Linked DNA regions of Homo sapiens. The protein of the gene in region 2 interacts with the protein of the main gene of each other region in a biochemical or structural test. Each region holds a gene or a part of one and is shown on either strand. Other genes may lie near its edges. The genes, in order: FBXW10, ANXA2, TNC and MYOC.

Region 1 (5,077 bases), on a different chromosome or scaffold from region 2:
TTTGGGAGGCCGAGGCGGGCGAATCACGAGGTCAGGAGATCGAGACCATCCTGGCTAGCACAGAGAAACCTTGTCTCTACTAAAAATACAAAAAATTAGCCAGGCGTGGTGGCGGGTGCCTGTAGTCCCAGCTACTCGGGAGGCTGAGGCAGGAGAATGGCATGATCACGGAAGGCGGAGCTGGCAGTGAGCTGAGATCGCGCCACTGCACTCTAGCCTGGGCGAGAGAGCGAGACTCCGTCTTAAAAAAAAAAAAAAAGAAAAGTGAAAAGTAGAATTTCCCTCCCCGTCACATTTTAAAACATTCTCCAAATGCATACCTAAAAACAAAACAAACAGTTTTCAAGGAGGGGGATTTTGATTAAAAACAGAAAGGCAGTGGACTAGATCAGAGAACTCAGGGACATTCTCATGCACATATGGGAAATTTCAATGTGATAAAGATAGCACCTCAAATCAATGCAGGAAGTGGCAGGTTATATAGTAGTTGCTGTGGGGGAGAAACTGCTCACTTTATCTAAATATGAATAAATGAAATGGAAACCCTACCTAATGCCACATACAAGGTTGAATTGCAAAGAGATTAAAAAACTGAATGCAAAAGATAAAACTGTAATGTTGATAGAAGAAAATATTAGAAAATATCTCTATGACCTAGAAGAGGGAAGAATCACAGAAATGAAGAAAAAAAAAACCCTGATAAACTGATATTTTATTACATTCATATTGAGATTTTTTTTTTTTTTTTGAGACCGAGTTTCGCTCTTGTTGCCCTGGCTGGAGTGCAGTGGCACCTCCCAGGTTCAAGTGATTCTCCTGCCTCAGCCTTCCTGAGTAGCTGAGATTACAGGCATGTGCCACCATGCCCAGCTAATTTTGTATTTTTAGTAGAGACGGGGTTTCTCCATGTTAGTCAGGCTGGTCTCAAACTCCCGACCTCAGATGATCCGCCTGCCTCAGCCTCCCAAAGTGCTGGGCTTACAGGCATGAGCCACCGCGCCTGGCCCATATTGAGAATTTTTGTTCAACAAAATTCATGTAGATACTATGAACACAGTTAATAGATAGTCCTGGCAAGAGGGTATTCTCTGGCAGATGGCCTTTGGGCTTCATCTGCACCGTTGGCTCTCCTGGGTCTCCAGCCTGCTGGCCCCACGCTGCAGATTTTGGACTTGCCAGCCACCTTGATCACACAAGTCAATACTTTATAGTAAATCTCCTATGTATATACACATTGTATTGGTTCTGTTTCTCTGGAGACCCTGACTAATACACATATGAAAAGGTGTTCAACTTCATTAGTAATCAGGAAAGTTAAAATTTAAACCCCAATAAAACACAGTGGGTTTCATTTAATACCCATCAGATTGACAAAACTGTTAGACTGTCAATAGTAAGTGTTGGTGAGAATATATAAGAAGAGATATTCTCATATGCTGCTAATGGGAATGTAAATTAATACAACCACATTGGAAAACAGTTTAGTACTCCTTCCTAGAAATTCCCATACTAAGAATATACCTTTAAAAAACTCGTGCACATGGGCACCAGGGGACACATCCAAGACCCGTCTCTGGCAGCATTCTTTGAAATAATTAAAAACTAGAAACAAGGGCCCGGCGCGGTGGCTCACACCTGTAATCCCAGTACTTTAGGAGGCCGAGGCGGGTGGATCACGAGGTCAGGAGATCGAGACCATCCTGGCTAACATGGGGAAACCCCTTCTCTACTAAAAAATACAAAAAAAAATAGCCTGGTGTGGTGGCGGGCCCCTGTAGTCTCAGCTACTTGGGAGGCTGAGGCAAGAGAATGGTGTGAACCTGGGAGGTGGAGCTTGCAGTGAGCCAACATGGCGCCACTGCTCTCCAGCCTGGGTGACACAGTGAGACTCCATCTCAAAAAAAAAAACAAAAAACTAGAAACAATGCAAATGTCCACCAACAGAAAAACAAATAAATGAGTTACGATACAATCATCCAATTTAATACAGTATCTCAGTGAAAATAAGTTAATTACTGCCACCTGCATCATATAGGTGAATCTCAAAAACAGTTCCATGTAAGAATGAGGTACCAACAAATTTTTAAAATATGATTCTTTTTATGTTGAGTTCAAAAACAGGCACAAGTAACTAATACTTCTGGAGATGTATAAGAAGGAAGCAAAAATGATTAAGAAATGCAAGGGAATCATTAGTATAAAATTAGAATAATATTACCTCTGGTTGGCAGGAAGAAGCAAGAAGAGAAGGGCACAGTGGGAGGGTTGGGGAATGGTGGTATCTTATTTCTTGGCCTGAGTAATGGATGCATGAGTGTTTGTTATATTGTTTAAAAATATACATATGTGGTTTTTTTTGAGATGGAGTCTCGCTGTGTCGCCCAGTCTGGAGTGTAGTGGCACCATCTCGGCTCACTGCAAGCTCCACCTCCCAGGTTCACACCATTCTCCTGCCTCAGCGTCCCGAGTAGCTGGGACTACAGGCACCCGCCACCACGCCCAGCTAATTTCTTGTATTTTGTTTAGTAGAGACGGGGTTTCACCATGTTAGCCAGGATGGTCTTGATTTCCTGACCTCGTGACCTGCCCACCTCAGCCTCCCAAAGTGCTGGGATTACAGGCGTGAGCCACCGCGCCTGGCCACGTATGTGTTTTTAAAGCACTATTTTGCCTCTATAGTCTGTCTCAAACCCATAAAAACCACGTTCCCCTGAAAGAGTCTGTAAGAACAAATGTAAATTATTTCTTCCTCTAAGAATGCTAATAAAGAAAATTTTTCTGATTTGCAGTCATCAATTAGAAAATATATCTGATAACTGTTATAAATCCATCTCATTCAAATTTTAAGCAATATATACATTCCTGACTTTTTCCTTGCCAAAAAAAAGCTGAAGGTATTCTAGAAGTCAGTATCTTCTAGGAAAACTGTTAAATATAAAAAGAAGAAGCATGCACACTTCTTCCATGAGCTGCCTCTAGGCCCTAGGTGGGACAGGGATCATGATGCCTTTGGACTCCTCACCTGATACTTAGGTCATAGCTCCCGCTTAGGAGAAAGTTTTCCTCCTCACACAGGAAGAGGGCCCGGACACTCCCAGCATGGCCTCGGAATTCAACGGGTATCGCTTTCACTTGTATGATGTCCAGAAGATGGATCTTTCGATTAGATGACACAGCTATCAGATCTCCCCCGGAATAGTGGATGACTCGGTTTTGATCCCACCTGAGTGCCAGGGGAAAAGGATTATCCATGAAAGAAGAGTCAGTGTCCCTCCTGGGACTGACTTAGCCCCATGACTTTTGCCTACAGCAGTGGTGTAAAGGAAAATCCAGGGCCTTTCAACAAGGGAGGCAGCAGAAGGCAAGGTCGAGAATTAACAGGCCTTGAGGGATCCCCACTCTCACACGATGACAAAAATCCATTTCCGTTAAATTTAAAAACTAGAGACACAAGGCAATTTTTTAACAATTCTGTAAATGTATGCTAAATCCCCAAGAGAGAGAATGGAGTATGTGGCATTGCCCGGATTTAATTGATCACGGAAACCTTTTTTCTTGGAAAACGTCAGAGGAACACAGTTGGGAAGTCCTGTGCACACTGTATTTCTTTTCTTTTGTTTTTTCCCTTAATCAATATCCAGTGAGCATATATTAGGTTCAAAGTCCTGTGCTAGTAGATACCACAGGAAATATAAATAATTATCAGATAAGGACCTTACTTACAATGAGCTTATTGTCCCATAAAACTAGGTGAGTTGAATTAGTCTTTCAATCATAGGATTATTAGCAAATAGGTAAAGTATGAACAGGATGACCAAATAATGTATTGTCCAAACTGAGAGTTTTTTATTGTGAAAGGGGACACTATTTATTTATTTTTAGAGACAAGGTCTTGCTCTGTCACCCAGGCTGGAGTACAGGGGCGCAATAATAACTCCCTGTAACCTCCAACTCTTGGCCTCAAGCGATCCTCCTACCTCAGCCTCCCAAAGTTCTGGGGTTACAGGCATGAGCCACCACGCCCAACCTGGGGACACTATTATTAATGACACTAGGACTGCAGACTAGAGAGGGATTGTTCCAATAAACAGGGATGTATAGTCACTCTAAATATGAGGAGCTTTGAGACCAACCTGACCAGAGAACGAAACCCCGTCTCTACAAAAAAATTCAGAAATTAGCCAGGCATGGTGGCATGTGCCTATAGTCCCAGCTACTTAGGAGACTGAGGCAGGAGAATCGCTTGAGCCCAGGAGGTGGAGGTTACAATGAGCCAAGATTGCACCACTGCAGCCCAGCCTGGACGACAGAATGAGGTTCACTCTGAAAAAAGAAATACAGATAGTATGGTGATAATTGTTCTTTAAACTACATATATATGTGTGTGTGTATATACATATATTTTTATGTATATATATACATGTACATATGTGTATATGTGTATATATATATGTGTGTGTGTATATGTACACACATATATATAAGGAGCAATTCTTGACATTTTTGCCCTTATTCCGTTGGTCATACCTAGAATTCAACTAGTCACCATCTCTTCTAAAGAGCAGTTATCACCACACTAAGCATAAAAACTCAACTTTGCCTTTCCCCTGTCTTATCTGTTCTGTCTTCCCCATACCGACTGTTCTATTATCAAGATGCAATTTGTTAATAAGATTCATGGCCAAAAATAAAGTAGAAGTGGACTTTGCAAAACCTTGTGAATATAAAGTGAAGTCCTAGGCCCAAAATATGGCAGAAAGTTGCTTATTAAAGGAACTTCGTCTCTCAGCATATTGAAATGATGTCAGAGTATGCAATTATAAATACGATTGTCATATTTACCATGGGAAGATATCTATAGTACTTTGCTGGGCTGGGTTACAGAAATATGTGTAATATAACACCACTTCTACTAAAATATGTGCTAAGTATGCAAAGAAAAGAATTCTAGAAGGGTAGACATCAATATTAATGGTGGTTATTGCTAGGTGATAGACTACAGGAAAACTTTGCCTTTCTCTATACATTTTCTGGCATTTGAAAGATTTTTTCCAATAACCGTATATTATTTCTAAAA
Region 2 (5,077 bases):
ATTCACTACTTTTTTTTTTTTTTGAGATGGGGTCTTACTCTGTCGTCCAGGCTGGAGTGCAGTGGCGCGATCTCGGCTCACTGCAAGCTCCACCTCCCAGGTTCACGCCATTCTCCTGCCTCAGCCTCCCAGGGTAGCTGGGACTACAGGCGCCCGCTACCATGCCCAGCTAATTTTTTGTATTTTTAGTAGAGATGGGGTTTCACTGTGTTAGCCAGAATGGTCTTGATCTCTTGACCTCGTGATCTGCCTGCCTTGGCCTCCCAAAGTGCTGGGATTACAGGCGTGAGCCACTGTGCCCAGCCCCTATTCACTACTTAAAAAAAAAAACCATATTAACAGTTGAACTCCAACATGCCAGTTCCACCATCTTGTGCTCTGGTGAAGCATTTTTTAAAGGAATAGAAAATGCCATTACTTTGTGCTAAGGGGTAGGAGTATAGATTCTTCAGAAGGAATGTAGAAAGCAGGATGCTAACAGACCCAATCCATGTTTGCAATTTACTTGATGGAGATCAGAGAAGTAGGCTAATGGTGGGGAAGCATTTCCCTGCTGATGTTCGTGCTTCCTGGTTCACAGGGGCTGGGAACCGACGAGGACTCTCTCATTGAGATCATCTGCTCCAGAACCAACCAGGAGCTGCAGGAAATTAACAGAGTCTACAAGGAAAGTGAGTAGCTTGATTTCTGTGATTCATCCTCTCAGCCCAATTTATGTGACTCTATCATGGCCACTGGGGTTAGGGTTCGGGCTAAGATGCCTGCATTAGTGATGTGCAGAAGTGCCTGCCACCTTGACTATGCAGGCAAGGTTGGCTGTGGTCCAAGTTTCTCTCCTTCACCTCCTCATTGCCTGCATTTTGATTATTACATTCCACTAGAACTTCTGTGTTAGAAGAAGGGTAGACAGGAGGGAAAGGAGAGAAAACAAAACTTGTTTTTAAACAAGATCGGATGAGGAGAAGTAGCAAGTATTATATATGGATTCCACTTATTGGGCGCTGTTCAGTGTCTGCTCAAGAGGTTGCCAACTCTGGACTGTGGATAATTGAAGAATTACAGCAAGAGACCCCTGTGGACTGGTGCACACTTAGCAGTATAGAAGGCTATGAGGGGAATAAACAATGCAACTTACATCGCTACTGCATTTCTTTTTTGTTTTACTTTTTAAAGTTATTATCATAGTTTTACATATTTTGGGGGTACATGTGATATTTTGGTACATGTATTATATATAATATGTAATTATCAAGTCAGGGTAATTGAGATATCCATCACCTCACACATTTATCTTTTTTTTTGTATCAGGAACATTACAGTTCTTCTCTAGCTACTGTATTTCAATATAGATGCTATTTTGAATATTGAAATATACTTTCATTCAAAAGCATTGTTTAATTCTTAGTAGTTTTTGCCGCTGTGCATTTTCTCAGTGGACAGTAAAGCACAATTGTGTGTGTGTGTGTGCGTGTGTAGACCTCCAATTTTTTTGATGTTCAGAACAAGTACTCACAGTCAGGAGGGCTGGGAGCCAGTATTTAAACTACACGAGAGGTCACCAATCAACGGTGAGCCTGAGGATCCCTGATTTGATCTAGCCCTGCTGCCCCCTGTTATGGATAATAACTCTGGCTCTGATTTCATGAGGGCGAAAATCATTCTAGTGAATCCTTCCTCTGTTTGGGGTTAAGGAGAATGGATATGTCCAGCTGACGTAGCTGTTCTGCTTCTCAGAGTCTTAGTGGGAAATGGGGAGATTGGGGTGGATGGTTGGCTACACAGGCAGAAAGCATAAAACCAGATGTATTTTCCTCCAAGTGTACAAGACTGATCTGGAGAAGGACATTATTTCGGACACATCTGGTGACTTCCGCAAGCTGATGGTTGCCCTGGCAAAGGTTGGTTTCCCAGTTTCTTTCTTTGCCCTTGCTTCCTCCCAAGGCAAGTCACATACCTCATTTTATACTTGGAGTGAATTAACTAAATCCCCTGTGCCTGCATCAGAAATTCAGCTGCATTTTTGAAAGTGGGTTTGCACTGTCACTGCAGAGTTGTCAATTTTGTATAATAGGATTTCTTATCCTGCAAAACCTCATGGACAAGTGGACTTTGGGAGCCAGAGAAGGGATGGGCGGCTCTCAAGTCCTGGCCTGGATTTATGTGCCAGAGCCTTGGCCGTGTGACTTAGGGAAGGTCACTTTGCCTCTATCTGTGGTCATGCAGGACCCAGTGGGAAGTGACCTTCTGGTTTCTTTTTCACTGCGTTTACTTCTCATGGAAGAATTTGCCCATATAGTCCTTTGTCTGGGGTGGAGTTGTCTTTGTGGAGCTGATTGCTAATATTAACACATTAACATGGAGGAAGGGGCATTTCCCCTGTGAATCCCTAGTTCTGGCCAGCGTGTAGCTTAATACTTATGTGCCAGGGGAGGGACGAGAGACCCTGGGAACCCTGATGACAAATGACAGATAGTGCGTCCGGCCCACTCACATCTCCATTACTGCAACAACTCCTATGCCATTCTCCCTCGCTCTCCTCTCTTCGCTACCACCTGCCCCATGTACCACCATCCACGGATCTCTGTGAAATACACTTTCACCATTTTACTCCTCTGTTCAAACCCCATTTCTGCTGCATCAAATTTAAACTCCTAACTGCTGTGAAAGGTCCTCTAAACCCTCCCTGCATCTTCTTTGCTCATCTTTCCCGCTCAGCTCTGCTCTGACAGGGCAGCTCCTTACTTACCTGAGAGCGTGCTGTGCCATCCCTTGTGTGCCAGCTGGCTCTCCCGCTCTGCTTGGCTAGCTGCATCTGACTGACCCTTGAAGTTTCAGCTTAAGCCCAGGCCCATCGTTCACACTCTTTGCTGACTCTGCCCTCTGAGAGTTCTTCCTCCGCCCGCATTTTGTGTCTTTCTAGTGCTGTGGGTTCCCGGGCTGCTTTACATTTGTTTCCACATATTCCTCCATCTGCATTGCAAGCTCTCTGTGAGAAAGAGCTAAATCTCATCAGCTTTTTGTGGGGGATGGGGACAGGGATTCTGTAAGGTGTGTAGGCCAGGACTGGGTATCAAGGGGGGGATTGTTGATGGCAAGGCACAGCCCCCACTTCCTTGCTCAATGATTTTACCACTCCTTGGCTGGTCTAGGTTTCTTTTTCTTTTTCTTTTCTTTCTTTCTTTTTTTTTTTTTTTTTTGAGACAGAGTCTCACTCTGTCACCAGGGTTGGAGTGCAGTGGCGTGATCTCAGATCACAGCAACCTGGTTCAAGCGATTCTCCTGCCTCAGCCTCCCGAGTAGCTGGGACTACAGGCATGTGCCACCACGCCTGGCTAATTTAGTAGAGACAGGGTTTCACCTTGTTAGCCAGGTTGGTCTCCATCTCCTGACCTCGTGATCTGCCCGCCTTGGCTTCCCAAAGTCCTAGGATTACAGGCGTGAGCCACCGTGCCCGGCCCCATCTATGTTTCAAAGTAAGAAAAATCTTACGTGGTTACTTATTTAGGAAATTAAATAATGGCGTACATGGACTGGGGAGAAAACATTTTCAGTTTTAAAATACACAAAGAAATGTATTTGAAGTTCTTTTTCTTTCCCCCATAGGGTAGAAGAGCAGAGGATGGCTCTGTCATTGATTATGAACTGATTGACCAAGATGCTCGGGTAAGTGCTGAGCTTTTTGCTTTGAGTTTTTGTTTTCTGGTAAGTCTCTGGATAGTCTATATAGTAATTTAACTCTGTGTGACAAATGACTCCCAAACTCTGTGGCTTAAAACAACAAACATGTATTATTTCTCAGTTTCTGTGTGTCAGGAATTGAGGAGTAGATTAGCCCAATTGTTCTGGCTCAGGGTCTTTTCTGAGGTTGCAGACAAAATGTTGCATGGCTGCAGTCACCTGAGGGCTTGACTGGGTCAAGGGAATCTGCTTCCAAGATGGTGCACTTCACATGACTGTTGGTAGGAGACCTTAGAATCGCTCCACATATGCCTCTCCATGGGGTTGTTTGAGCGTCCTCACAACATGGCAGCCGGCTTTCCCCAGAGCAAGCAATCTGCAAAGAGGAAGCCACAGTGTCTTTTATGACCTAACCTCAGGAGTCCCACCTTGCACTGCTGTCATACTCTTTTCATTAAAAGTGAGTCACTGAGTCTAGCCCACACTCAGTGGGAGGGGATTAGGCTCTTCCTTTGGAAGGGAGGAACCTCAAAGAATTTCTGGCCGTATTTTAAACCCACCATAGTCTGACAGCAATGTTTATTAGAAGACATTCTCTTATAATGCTGGTGTTACTTACAGAATCAATACGTGACTCACATATGCTCACTCAGGCTTTGCTTGTATGGAAGCATCAGTTTCTGCAGAGTGTAATGTGGCTGTGCATACCAATCAGGCAGGCAGGTGGGAAGCAGAAGAAGGTGGAGGAGACACAGCCAGGGACAGGATGGTGTACTGCTCTGTTGTGGTGGGGGAGAAAGGGAGGCCAGCAGAGACCTGTCCTTTTCTGGCTGAATAAGACTTTTGCCAGTTCTAGTTCCATTATCTCTGAGAACTATTTGTTAAGCTTATTCAGACTGCAATGAACTATATTCTTTACTCAGAGGGACAACGATTATCTCAAAGTAAGTCATAAAAGCTGCAGAAAAAAATTAATTTAAATTAATGTTAGTTTTAAAATTCAATATATTCCACACGGCACTTCTAGCAGGTAGTAGAGAAGGGTTTTAAATAAAGTAATAGAAGTTGGGTTTTGCAGTTCCTAGATGGTGGAAGATCACGGAATGAATATCTACCCTTGCATAAGCCTTTCTTCCTCTTGCCCTCCCTGCCATTGTTAGGGCTACTTGTAGCCCCTAAATTTTCCAGAAACTGAAAGTGAGATGAGATGGGCTCCTTTTCCAGCTCCATCACTCCCTGAGTCTCTGAGAAGCTTGAGAATGAGAGCCTGGTCTGTAGCTGTCCAGTAAACATCTGCTAGCTTATCTGCCCCTAAATGTGCCCAAAGGGAGGAGGGCCAGATGTGTTAATGAACATTTACTTGTTCTTCTTTATATGAATACAAGCTCTTGGTCCCTCC
Region 3 (5,077 bases), on a different chromosome or scaffold from region 2:
CCTTAAATGACCAAATAGAAAATATGTAAAGCTTTGCAGTTAGATGATTTCAGTCACAACTATTCAACTCTGCTATTGTAGAGGCAGCAGCTATAGATAATACACAAACAAATGAGCATGGCTGTGTTCCAATAAAACTTTATTTACAAAAATAGGCTGCCACCCTATGGTTTGCTAACCTCTGCTGGAATATAGTAGTTATTCAATAAATGACAGCTTCTATTATGAAACTAAATACAGATTGAATTGAACAATAAGGAAACTAACATTTTGTTGAGTGCCTATTATATACATTTTTATGCCAAATCTTACACTAAATGCTTTTTATTCATGCTATCATTTATCTTGTCATTTGTCATGACAACCTGGTGAGTTAGGTATTATTATGCTTATTTGAAAATTAATTTGAGACTCAGGGAGTTTCCATGACTGGCTTAAGAGGCAGAGCCAGCTTTTGAATCCTGATTTATTTGTGGTTCTAAAATGTCTGCTTTCAACTACATTGAGCTACACTGGGCTGACTCCTAAAGGAATTTTCTTAGTTCAGATAAGGTAAAAACTTAAATTTTTACTGCTCCATAAAGAAAGAGATCAGCATTCAAGTGGATGAACTCACTTTCCATTTCCTAGACCTTCAGCAGCTCTTTGGTGGCTGTGCACATGTAAGCACCAAAATATTTGACCTCTGTTTTTCTCCCAGAACCTCTGGCTGGATCTCAAGTTTTATGTACTTCCTTTTTGGAGAATACTTAAGCCAAGGTGTACTGTTTGCAAACACTTATTAGCCTTGGGTAGATATTGGCGAGTTTCCGTTGGCATCAAATGGGCTTCCAGAATCTGCTGAGGCCTGGCTGTGCTCATTGATTGTCTTTGCCAAAAAGAGCTGCTAATTAGGATGACATCCTGCTTGTCTCTACCTCTAGAGCTAGGTTTTCCTTCCTGGGCATGCCTATTTTGTCCCAAGCAGTATGTTTGGATTTTTAGTGCAGATCTAGATGAACAAGAGCAAATTTGCAGTCCCTTTAAAATCTATGAAGCCTTGTGCTCCAGTGAAGAATTTCCCAGACTACGTTGCAAGATGTTTTTAGGTAGATGTCCTATGGTCAGGTATGTTTGGAGATACTGGGCTAACGAAAGTTGAACAGATTAATTACAGCAAGATATCTCAGATGATGCACTCTACTTCCCTGAACCATCCATTGGCTTCTAACCACACTCAGAATGAAATTCAAACTCCTAGCCATTGCCTACAGAGCTCCTTCTCTCATTTCATTCAGACATCTGCACAATGGCACATTCACCTCTCACCCCATCTAAAAGAGCACTCCTCTCACCACCAGTCATTGTTTATGCCCTTACCTTGTTTTGTCTTTCTTCTTAGCAAATATCACTACCTGAAATTGTGCTATAAGTTTATGTGATTCCTTTTTATTGTCTGCCTTCCCCCTGCTATGGTCTGAATGTTTGTGTTCCCTCAAAATCCACACATTGGAACATAATCACCAGTGTGACAATATTAGTTGGCAGAGTCTTTGGGAGGTACTTAGATCATGAGGGCAGAGGCTTCATAAATAGAATTTGTGCCCTTATTAAAAGAGACCCCATAGAGCTGCCTTATGTCTTCTGCCATGTGAGGACATATAAGGTGCCATCTTGATCTTGGACTTCCCAGCCTCCAGAACTGTGAGAAAGTAATTTCTGTTGTTTGTAAGTCACTCAGTTTATGGTATTTTGTTGTAGCAGCTTGTACAAACTAAGATATGCCACCATAATGTAAACACCATGAATAAAAGGATCTTGACTGTATTGCTTTCTATTGTATCACCAGCCCTAAAACTATGTATTGAATGGACATATGAGCTGTGCATTTCCAAGAACAGAAGAGTACCAAGTGTTTCCCAAACTCATTTGGCCACAAAACCCTTTTTTAGGTGATTCCCATGAGAATGCTTTTCCACATGACACACTTTTGGGAACTGCTTCTCTAGTGGGATCTTATCATCAAGAACTATTTGATCAACAGGTAACAAAACAATGACAACAACAAAACATTTATATTGAATGCCAGTTTCTGTGCTAAGCAGTGTTCATGAACTACATCATTTAATCATCACAATAAACTTTAAACTAGGTGCTACTACTTTGCTTTTAATATGGATAAGAAGAAATTAGCTTAAAGAAGCTAAGTAACTTGGCCAAGATCACATAGCAAGCAAATACCTCTCAAACCCAGAGGATTCTTATGCCAAAGTCATACTCTTAACCATTATTCATTTCTTCTTGTGGGCTGTGAGCTTCTCCATGTCCTAAGATAGAGAGCTCTTTGTCTCCATCCCACCCTTGAGCCTGTTCTTTCCTCCTATTAGTTGTTGACTAATCTTTGTTATAACCTCCAGATTTTCAGCTATCTCTTGTGACTCAGCCTCAAATCCCCAGACAGGACTCCTCTGTCCTTGGTACTGGTTTTTCCAAATCCAAAGCAATTTGTGTTTTTATCCTGAAGGCCACCTCTGAAAGCAAACACATTCCTTGAGGTCTGTGTCCTGAGACAGTTTCCTGTCCTAGGGCTGGGATGGTTTCCTCCTATCACATGTTGTGTCATCACACTGCATACTTGCAAGCCAGTGGGTGAAGCGTGAAAACAACTTCAAGCTCTGGGCTTTCTGAGCAAACTGCTAAGGAAGAGGATGTCCAAATCTGGGACACAGCAAGGACTCCTATTAATTGCTAAAGATTAACTTTATTCCAGTTGTGCTAGGTTTCAGATAAACCAGATACAATTTTTTCTTTTAGGAACTATATTGTCAAGAGGGGCAGACAGGCCATTCCAGGATGATAAAGGAGATGATAGATTTAAAAAAAGAAACATAGGTAGAATGAGATGACAGTAAAAGGGCATCTAATTTACCTGGAGGAAGTGGTGCCTGAACTGAATTTTGAGAGAAAAATATGAATAGGTGAAAAACATAAAAAAGGATATTCTAGGCACGAGGGAATGGCATTTACAAGGATATAAAAAGAATAAAAGGGTTGATGTGAACAGTATGAATGACAGCTGAAGTACAGGATCTGTTTAGAGACCAGAAGCAAGATCATGGAGAATCTTGAATGTCAGAATATCTGGACTTTTTTGCAGGCAGAAGAAAAGCATTTGGAAATCTTGAGGCCCAGGAATGTTAACCTCTATGTCTCAGGTTGAAGAAGGGGAAGGCTGGGTTGCTGGGGGCCAGTGGGAAAGCTGTTGCAGTGGCCCATCTGTGAGATGCTAAGATCTGAACTACAGGGGTAATGGAGGTGGGGCAGGGGGTGGTGATCAAGAAAGTGGGGAGGCAGTGAACAGATTTGCTTGTCAAGGCAGTAGAGACTACAACATTTTGTGTGTGGGGTTAGTAAAGAAAAAAGAATTAATCGAAGATGTTACTATTCATTATATCTGCTGAGAGGAATAGATTGAGGGAGGAACAATGGATGAGTTTTAGTTTTGGTCACACTGACTGTCTTGCTTTAGAATAAAATACATTTGGAATCATTGCCGTGAAAGGCCCCTCCCTGGGGTGAAATTCAAGAGAAATTATGGCTAACCAATGAGTTAAAACAACTAATCAAAACACTTGGCTCCACTATATACATGGGAGGATGTTAAATAAAAACTAGTCCACTTTAGTGGCTGCCAGAATTTTTTTTTTTTTTTTTTTGAGACAGAGTCTCACTGTGTTGCCCAGGCTGGAGTGCAGTGGTGTGATCTCGGCTAACTGCAAGCTCCGCCTCCCAGGTTCACGCCAGTCTCCTGCCTCAGCCTCCTGAGTAGCTGGGACTACAGGTGCCCGCCACCACACCCAGCTAATTTTTTGTATTTTTAGTAGAGACGGGGTTTCACCATGGTCTCGATCAATTTTTTTATTACTCATCAGTGAGGGTACTGAAGGGTTGAGTGAACTTGTCATTGATAAGAGGTTGCCAGAAATTGGTGACACTGGAGTGCTGGAGGCTGTGGCAGGCAGACTCTAAGGTGGCCCCATTGATACTGCCTCCCGGCATTCTCATACGTGTGCAATTACCTCCCCTTGAGTGTGGGATGGCCCAGTGACTTTCTTCTAACAAACAGAATATGACTAAGGTGATGGAATATCCCTTCCATGATTAGGTTACACAGGATTGTGATGTGCCTCTTGCTTATAGACTTTCTCTCTCTCTCTCTTTTTTTTTTTTTTTTTTTTTTTTTTGAGATGGAATCTCGCTCTTGTTGCACAGGCTGGAGTGGAATGGCTCGATCTTGGCTCACTGCAACCTACGACTCCCAAGTTCAAGTGATTCTCCTGCTTCAGCTTCCTGAGTAGCTGGGATTACAGGTGCCCACCACCATGCCAGGCTAATTTTTTTGTATTTTTAGTAGATACGGGGTTTCAGCATATTGGCCAGGCTGGTCTCGAACTCCTAACCTCAAGTGATCCACCCGCCTCGGGCTCCCAAAGTGCTGGGATTAAGAGGTGTGAGCGACCATGCCCGGTAACTCTCTTTCTCATTGGCTTTGTTAATGTAAATGGCCTTGTTGGAGAAGCCCATGTGGCAAGGAACTGAGGGTAGCCTTGGACCAACAGCTTTGAAGGAACTGAGGCCCTCAGTTCAATATCTCTCAAGAAATGGAGTCCAGCCAACAACCACATCAACAAGCTTGGAAGCTAATCATCCCCCAATTCAGCCTTTAGATGAGACATCAACCCTGTCCAACACAGACAATAACCTCATGAGAGACCATGAGGCAGAAAATCCAACTAAGCTGTGCTTAGACCTCTAGAAACCATGAGATAATAAATGAGTGTTGATTTAAAGTAATTTGGTATGCAGTAATAGATAATGAATACGGAGATACTAGTCATCCTTGGCTCGGTCCGTGTGAGTTAAGGCTGTTGAGAGAATAAGACTCTGCTCATTTTTCTTTTCTAAAAGAATGTCTTAATTCTGAAACTTTTAAGATTGTCCCTGGCTTCCAAGAGCAAGAGTCAGAAGACCTAGGATTCCAACCTGACCCTGTTGCCAACTGGCGGAAGATCTTAGAAAGATCTTTCCCTTCTCTATG
Region 4 (5,077 bases), on a different chromosome or scaffold from region 2:
GCTCGGACTTCAGTTCCTGGAAGGCCAAAGTGTCCAAATTCCACGTAGAAACTGCATTAAAAGAAAGAGACAAAATTTTACTGTAAGAAAAAATGGCCCAAGGATTGACTATGTTGAGGATGACATTTAAATAGGCTGCCGGCCAGGCGTGGTGGCTCATGCCTGTAATCCCAGCACTTTGGGAGGCCGAGGCAGGCGGATCACCTGAGGTCAGGAGTTCGAGACCAGCCTGGCCAACATGGTGAAACCCTGTCTTTGCTAAAAACACAAAAGAATTAGCTGGATGTGGTGGCAGGTGCCTATAATCCCAGCTTCTTGGGAGACTGAGGCAGGAGAATTGCTTGAACCAAGGAGGGGGAGATTGCTGTGAGCCGAGACTACACTATTGTACTCCAGCTTGGGCAACAAGAAAGAAACTCTGTCTGAAAACTAACTAACTAAATAAATAGGCTCCCAAAGATATGGTGTTTGAGATTTGATTTTAGATAAGGACTGGGGATGGGTTGGGGGTCAGAGAAGGGAAGATAAAACATGATTGGACTGTGCTGATAACAGTTGGGCCTGAGTGATGGCTACATTGGAGTTCATTGTAGTCTCTCTACTTTTGTGAATATTTGAACAATTCCATAATTAAAAACCTCATAAATAATAAATTGCAGGGCAATGTGCCTACCTTAGAGTAGGGTATTCAAAATCAAATAATATTTTAATTCCACTAGAAGGGCTGGTTTGTGAATAGGTGAGTCGTAATTTCAGGAATATGGAGACAGTCCTCAGCATCTTCTTAGATGTCTGAATTTCAATAATTAAAAATTCATGAAAAATTAGCTGGGCATGGTGGTAAGCATCTGCAGTCCTAGGTACTTGGGAGGCTGATGTGGGAGGATTGCTTGAGCCCAGAAGTTCAAGGCTGCAGTGAGCTATGATCCTGCCACTGCACTCCAGCTTGGGTAACAGAGCAAGGCCCGGTCTCAAGGTCTCAAAAAAAAAAAAAAAGAGACCGGGCACAGTGGCTCACACTGAAATCCCAGCACTTTGGGAGGCCGAGGCAGGCGGATCACTTAAGGCCAGGAGTTCAAGACTAGCCTGGCCAGCGTGGTGAAATTCCATCTTTACTAGAAATACAAGAATTAGCAGGGTGTGGTGGCACATGCCTGTAGTTCCAGATACTCAGGAGGTTGAGGATCACTTGAACCCAGGAGGCAAAGGTTGCAGGGAGCCGGGATTGTGCAACTGTACTCCAGTCTGGGCAACAGAGCAAGACTCTGTCTCAAGAAAAAAAAAAAAAAAAAAAAAAAAAAAGAAGTGTGGCTCATGTCTGTAATCCCAGCACTTTGGGAGGCCAAGACAGGAGGAGTACTTGAGCCCAGGTGTTCAAGACCAGCTTGGGCAACATAGGGAGACTCCTGTTAAAAAAAAAAAAAAGATAAAAGTTTACTGCATGACTTAAGGTTTTTTCCCTTGTTATATGCAAATATTCTTGTAAGAAGTAACATATTAAGCTTTATACTTTCAGTAGAAATATTCTGTCTGATTCCTTTCTGAGACCAGTTTTGCATAATGGAGAGGGAGTGTGTGCAGAGTTCCTATAGGAGTTTGGGGTGGGGGTGGTGAGCCATACAGAAGGGAAGCGGGTGGGCAGCATTGGTTAGACAGTAAGTGATCATGGTGTGCTACATGTCTCTACTCTTGCTTAGGATTATGATCTTACAGCAGTCTTGAATACAAGGATGAGGCAATAGTCACAAGGAACAGGCTTGGCTATTTTAAAATGCAGTTTGGCCAGGCCCAGTGGCTCATACCTGTAATCCCAGCACTTTGGGAAGCCAAGGTAGACAGATCACTGGAGCCCAGGAGTTCAAGACAAACCTGGGCAACATGGTGAAATCCCATCTCTACAAAAACTACAAAAAGTTAGCCTGGGTGGTGATGTGTACCTGCAGTCCCAGCTACTTGGGAGGCTGAGGTGGGAGGATCACTTGAGACCGGGAGGTCAAGGCTGTGGTGAGCAGTGATCGTACCTCTGCACTCCAGCCCTGGCGTAGAGTGAGACCCTGTCCTCCCCTCCAACCTCCCAAAAAACCCATCACATACACATAAAAACAAATAAAATGCAGGTTTGATGATTATTCAGGTGTGGCAAGGCCAACATCCCAGGAGGCAATTGTCACTGAAAAGCAAGTTAAAGCAAAATTATGGAGACAGTAAAAAGATCAGCAGTTGTTGGGTGAGGAAGGGATGACTAGGTGAGGCACAGACGATTTTTAGGGCAATGAATACTGTGTATGATACTATAATGGTGGACACATGTCACTATGCATTTGTCTAAACCCATAGAAGGCGCAACACCAAAAATGAACCCTAATTTAAACCGTGGACCTTGGGTGTTGTGCGTGCTGATGCAGGTTCATCAGTTGTAACAACTGCTGTGGCGGGAGATGATGATAATCGGGGAGGCTGTGCATGTGTGGGGGCCAGTAGTATCTGGGAACTGTTTGTACTTTTCTCTCAATTTGGCTGTGAACATAAAACTGCTCTAAAAAAAAATTATCTTTACAAGTTGTTGTACTCACAGAGCCCAAGAGGAAGGGGGCACACTAAGCCCAGGAGGCCACCTGGGGAAGCACCAGGGTTGCTCCAGAAGAGGGCACCAGGGGAAAATGTGGGAAAGCGCCTTTATTCTTTCCATGGGAAGGAAAGAAAGGGGAGGCAGGGTAAGCAGGTTTAGGATTGGGGAGTTTGAATAATTTCAGCAGGATCTGGGGTCACAGGAGTTATCTCTAATTGTCTGGTACCAGGCCCTGGGTGATTAGGTCAGGGGGACAGTGGCCTTGAGTTTGAGCCAGATGGAGGTGGTCACAGGGTGTGGGCTCTGGATTGGTTGGTTTGCATATGAAAGCTGTCCTCCCAGGTGAGTCCTTTGCTAACCGTAGGAACTGGCTACCCCTGGGAGGGGCAGTCCCTCTCACGTTTGCAAGGCCCAGACAGCAAAGCATCAGAATAAAAAGACATGCTTAATACACTGGGCTTTTCTCTTGCTGAACCTCTGAGTCACTTCTCTGCCCTTTGAGCAACTTGTTCCCCGCTCAGGATTCTCAGGTGTTCAGGACAGTGGGAGGAAAGTCAGTGCATCCCCTGAGGCCGGAGCGCCTACACAGCCGAGAGGGTCGGGAAGACATGTTCTGCCTTTGATCATTTGTTTGCTCAGCTCTCCTAAATTTAGATTTCAGGCAGAGAGGATCACCACAGAAGTCTTAATCCTCTGGTTCTACCACATTTCATCAAAGCCACACATTATTTTACATTTTCACATCTCCAGAGTCAGGGTACCTTGTTTGAGTTGCTGGGGTTCAGCTTCAACAAATTATAGTACTGGAAAAAATTTCTCCCTGGAAGGAGGTGAAGAAAACATTCAGCTAGCTCTCAGGTGCAGGCTGGGCCAGACAGCCATGCTGCCCACAGTGAGCCAGCTCAGTAGCTGCTGCAGCTGCCTGCCCCTGATCCCAGCTACCCTTCTCTCCTCTCCACCCCTGCCTCTGTGTGGCTGCAGTTGTTAGCCTCCCTAAAAGTGTTAATGCCCTGGAGGTGGGTGGGTCCTCCATCCCTGGGATATCCCTCAGTCTAGAGTGCACCATGTAAGTAGTTAAAACCCATAAGCTGGCCAGGCGCAGTGGCTCATGCCTGTAAACCCAGCACTTTGGGAGGCCGAGGTGGCAGGATTGCATGAGGCCAAGAGTTTGGGACCAGGCTGGGCAACATAGCGAGACCCCATCTTTACAAAAAATTAAAGAGTTAGCTGGGTGTGGTGGTGCAGTCTGTGGTCTCAGCTACTCGGGAGGCTGAGGCAGGAAGATGACTCTTGAGTCCAAGAGGGCAAGGCTGCAGTGAGCCATGATCATGCCACTGCACTCCAGTCTGGGTGACAGAGTGAGACCCTGTCTTAAAAAAAAAAAAAATTAAAAAAAGAAAGACTCATAAGCCAAAATGTATATGTAACTGAGGACATCCTCAATGTGCATTCCAAACTCCAGGGGCAATTGGGAGTACCCCCCGGGACATGGCAGGCCTTCATTATTCCTAGCCTCAAATCCACAGAGCTATTTATCCATCCTTTTAGTCACATCATTGGAGCACCTATTGAGTGCAAGGCTGTGCTAGGTGCTCAAGAAAAAAAGGTGTCTAAGACACAAGTTTGTCTAATAGGCTAGTCTATGTTTAAAAAAAAAAAAAAAAAGACACAATCAGTCCATGCCCTTAAGGAAATCATAATCTGGCAAAGTCCTCATACCCGAGAAGGAAAATGGGTTTATTCCAGGCTGCTGCGGAAACCAGTTTCTTGGACAATCTGAATGGCTCCTGGAGAGTCCTGGAAACTTTTATTTCATTCCCTGCGTCTCCTTCTCCCTATCTGAGGTTGTGCAGGGGTGAGGAAACCCCTTTGTTCTTCATTCTAAAGGTTGCATTGGCCTAGGAGGGTATCCAGGGCAGGGACTGATTCACTAGGTCAAATGGAGTTTCCTTAGATCGACCTGAGACCAGTACCAGCTGCTTCCCTTCTCCCCCTGTGCAGGCAACACACACCTCCGGCAGGGACTTGGTGCTGCCTATGGGGGAGAGGGACAGGGTGCCCGAGGTTCCCTGTTCTTCTGTGCTGCCAGGGAGAGGTAAGAGAGAGTGACCGCCTTCCTGTACACAGGTGGCAGAACCATCTGTAACCTTCCTCTCTGATGCTGCCTCGCCGATTGCCATGCCTTCTCTCTTAGGCCCAGAACACACACCCAGGCTGTTAGGAGCAGCCCACCGCTCCCTGGCCCTGCCAGCCTCCTGCAATGTGCAGAGGCTCATTCGATGTGGCAAAGTCTTGCCAGGACAATTTTTCAAAATCAGGGCATTAAGCAAGTTCCTTGAATTGAGCTGGTTTCCTTTCATCTGTACCTCTTCTTGGATCACTGCAGACTCTGCCTCAGGACAACTCAAATTTCTTTTCTTTCATTGTCTCAACTCTCAGAATATAAGAGTTGCTGGGCATGGTGGCTCACGCCTGTAATTCCAGCACTTTGGGAGGCTGAGGTGGGTG

Evidence for each region.
Region 1: of the proteins of ANXA2 (region 2) and FBXW10, one has a biochemical effect on the other in vitro, tested with the Homo sapiens proteins (one study listed by BioGRID).
Region 3: the proteins of ANXA2 (region 2) and TNC form a complex in vitro, tested with the Homo sapiens proteins (one study listed by BioGRID).
Region 4: the proteins of ANXA2 (region 2) and MYOC interact in far-western blotting, tested with the Homo sapiens proteins (one study listed by BioGRID).

Annotation. Positions count from the first base shown.
Region 1 is NC_000017.11:18,756,451-18,761,527, reverse strand, and holds part of FBXW10 (F-box/WD repeat-containing protein 10), read right to left. Parts: intron 3,224-5,077; coding exon 3,023-3,223; intron 1-3,022. UniProt on the Homo sapiens protein: Probable substrate-recognition component of a SCF (SKP1-CUL1-F-box protein)-type E3 ubiquitin ligase complex which mediates the ubiquitination and subsequent proteasomal degradation of target proteins. Overexpression is leading to degradation of CBX5 and CBX1.
Region 2 is NC_000015.10:60,352,740-60,357,816, reverse strand, and holds part of ANXA2 (annexin A2), read left to right. Parts: intron 1-580; coding exon 581-671; intron 672-1,818; coding exon 1,819-1,898; intron 1,899-3,603; coding exon 3,604-3,663; intron 3,664-5,077. UniProt on the Homo sapiens protein: Calcium-regulated membrane-binding protein whose affinity for calcium is greatly enhanced by anionic phospholipids. It binds two calcium ions with high affinity. May be involved in heat-stress response.
Region 3 is NC_000009.12:115,107,203-115,112,279, forward strand, and holds part of TNC (tenascin isoform 1 precursor), read right to left. Parts: intron 4,350-5,077; exon of another isoform or gene 4,227-4,349; intron 1-4,226. UniProt on the Homo sapiens protein: Extracellular matrix protein implicated in guidance of migrating neurons as well as axons during development, synaptic plasticity as well as neuronal regeneration. Promotes neurite outgrowth from cortical neurons grown on a monolayer of astrocytes.
Region 4 is NC_000001.11:171,638,672-171,643,748, forward strand, and holds part of MYOC (myocilin precursor), read right to left. Parts: intron 52-5,077; coding exon 1-51. UniProt on the Homo sapiens protein: Secreted glycoprotein regulating the activation of different signaling pathways in adjacent cells to control different processes including cell adhesion, cell-matrix adhesion, cytoskeleton organization and cell migration.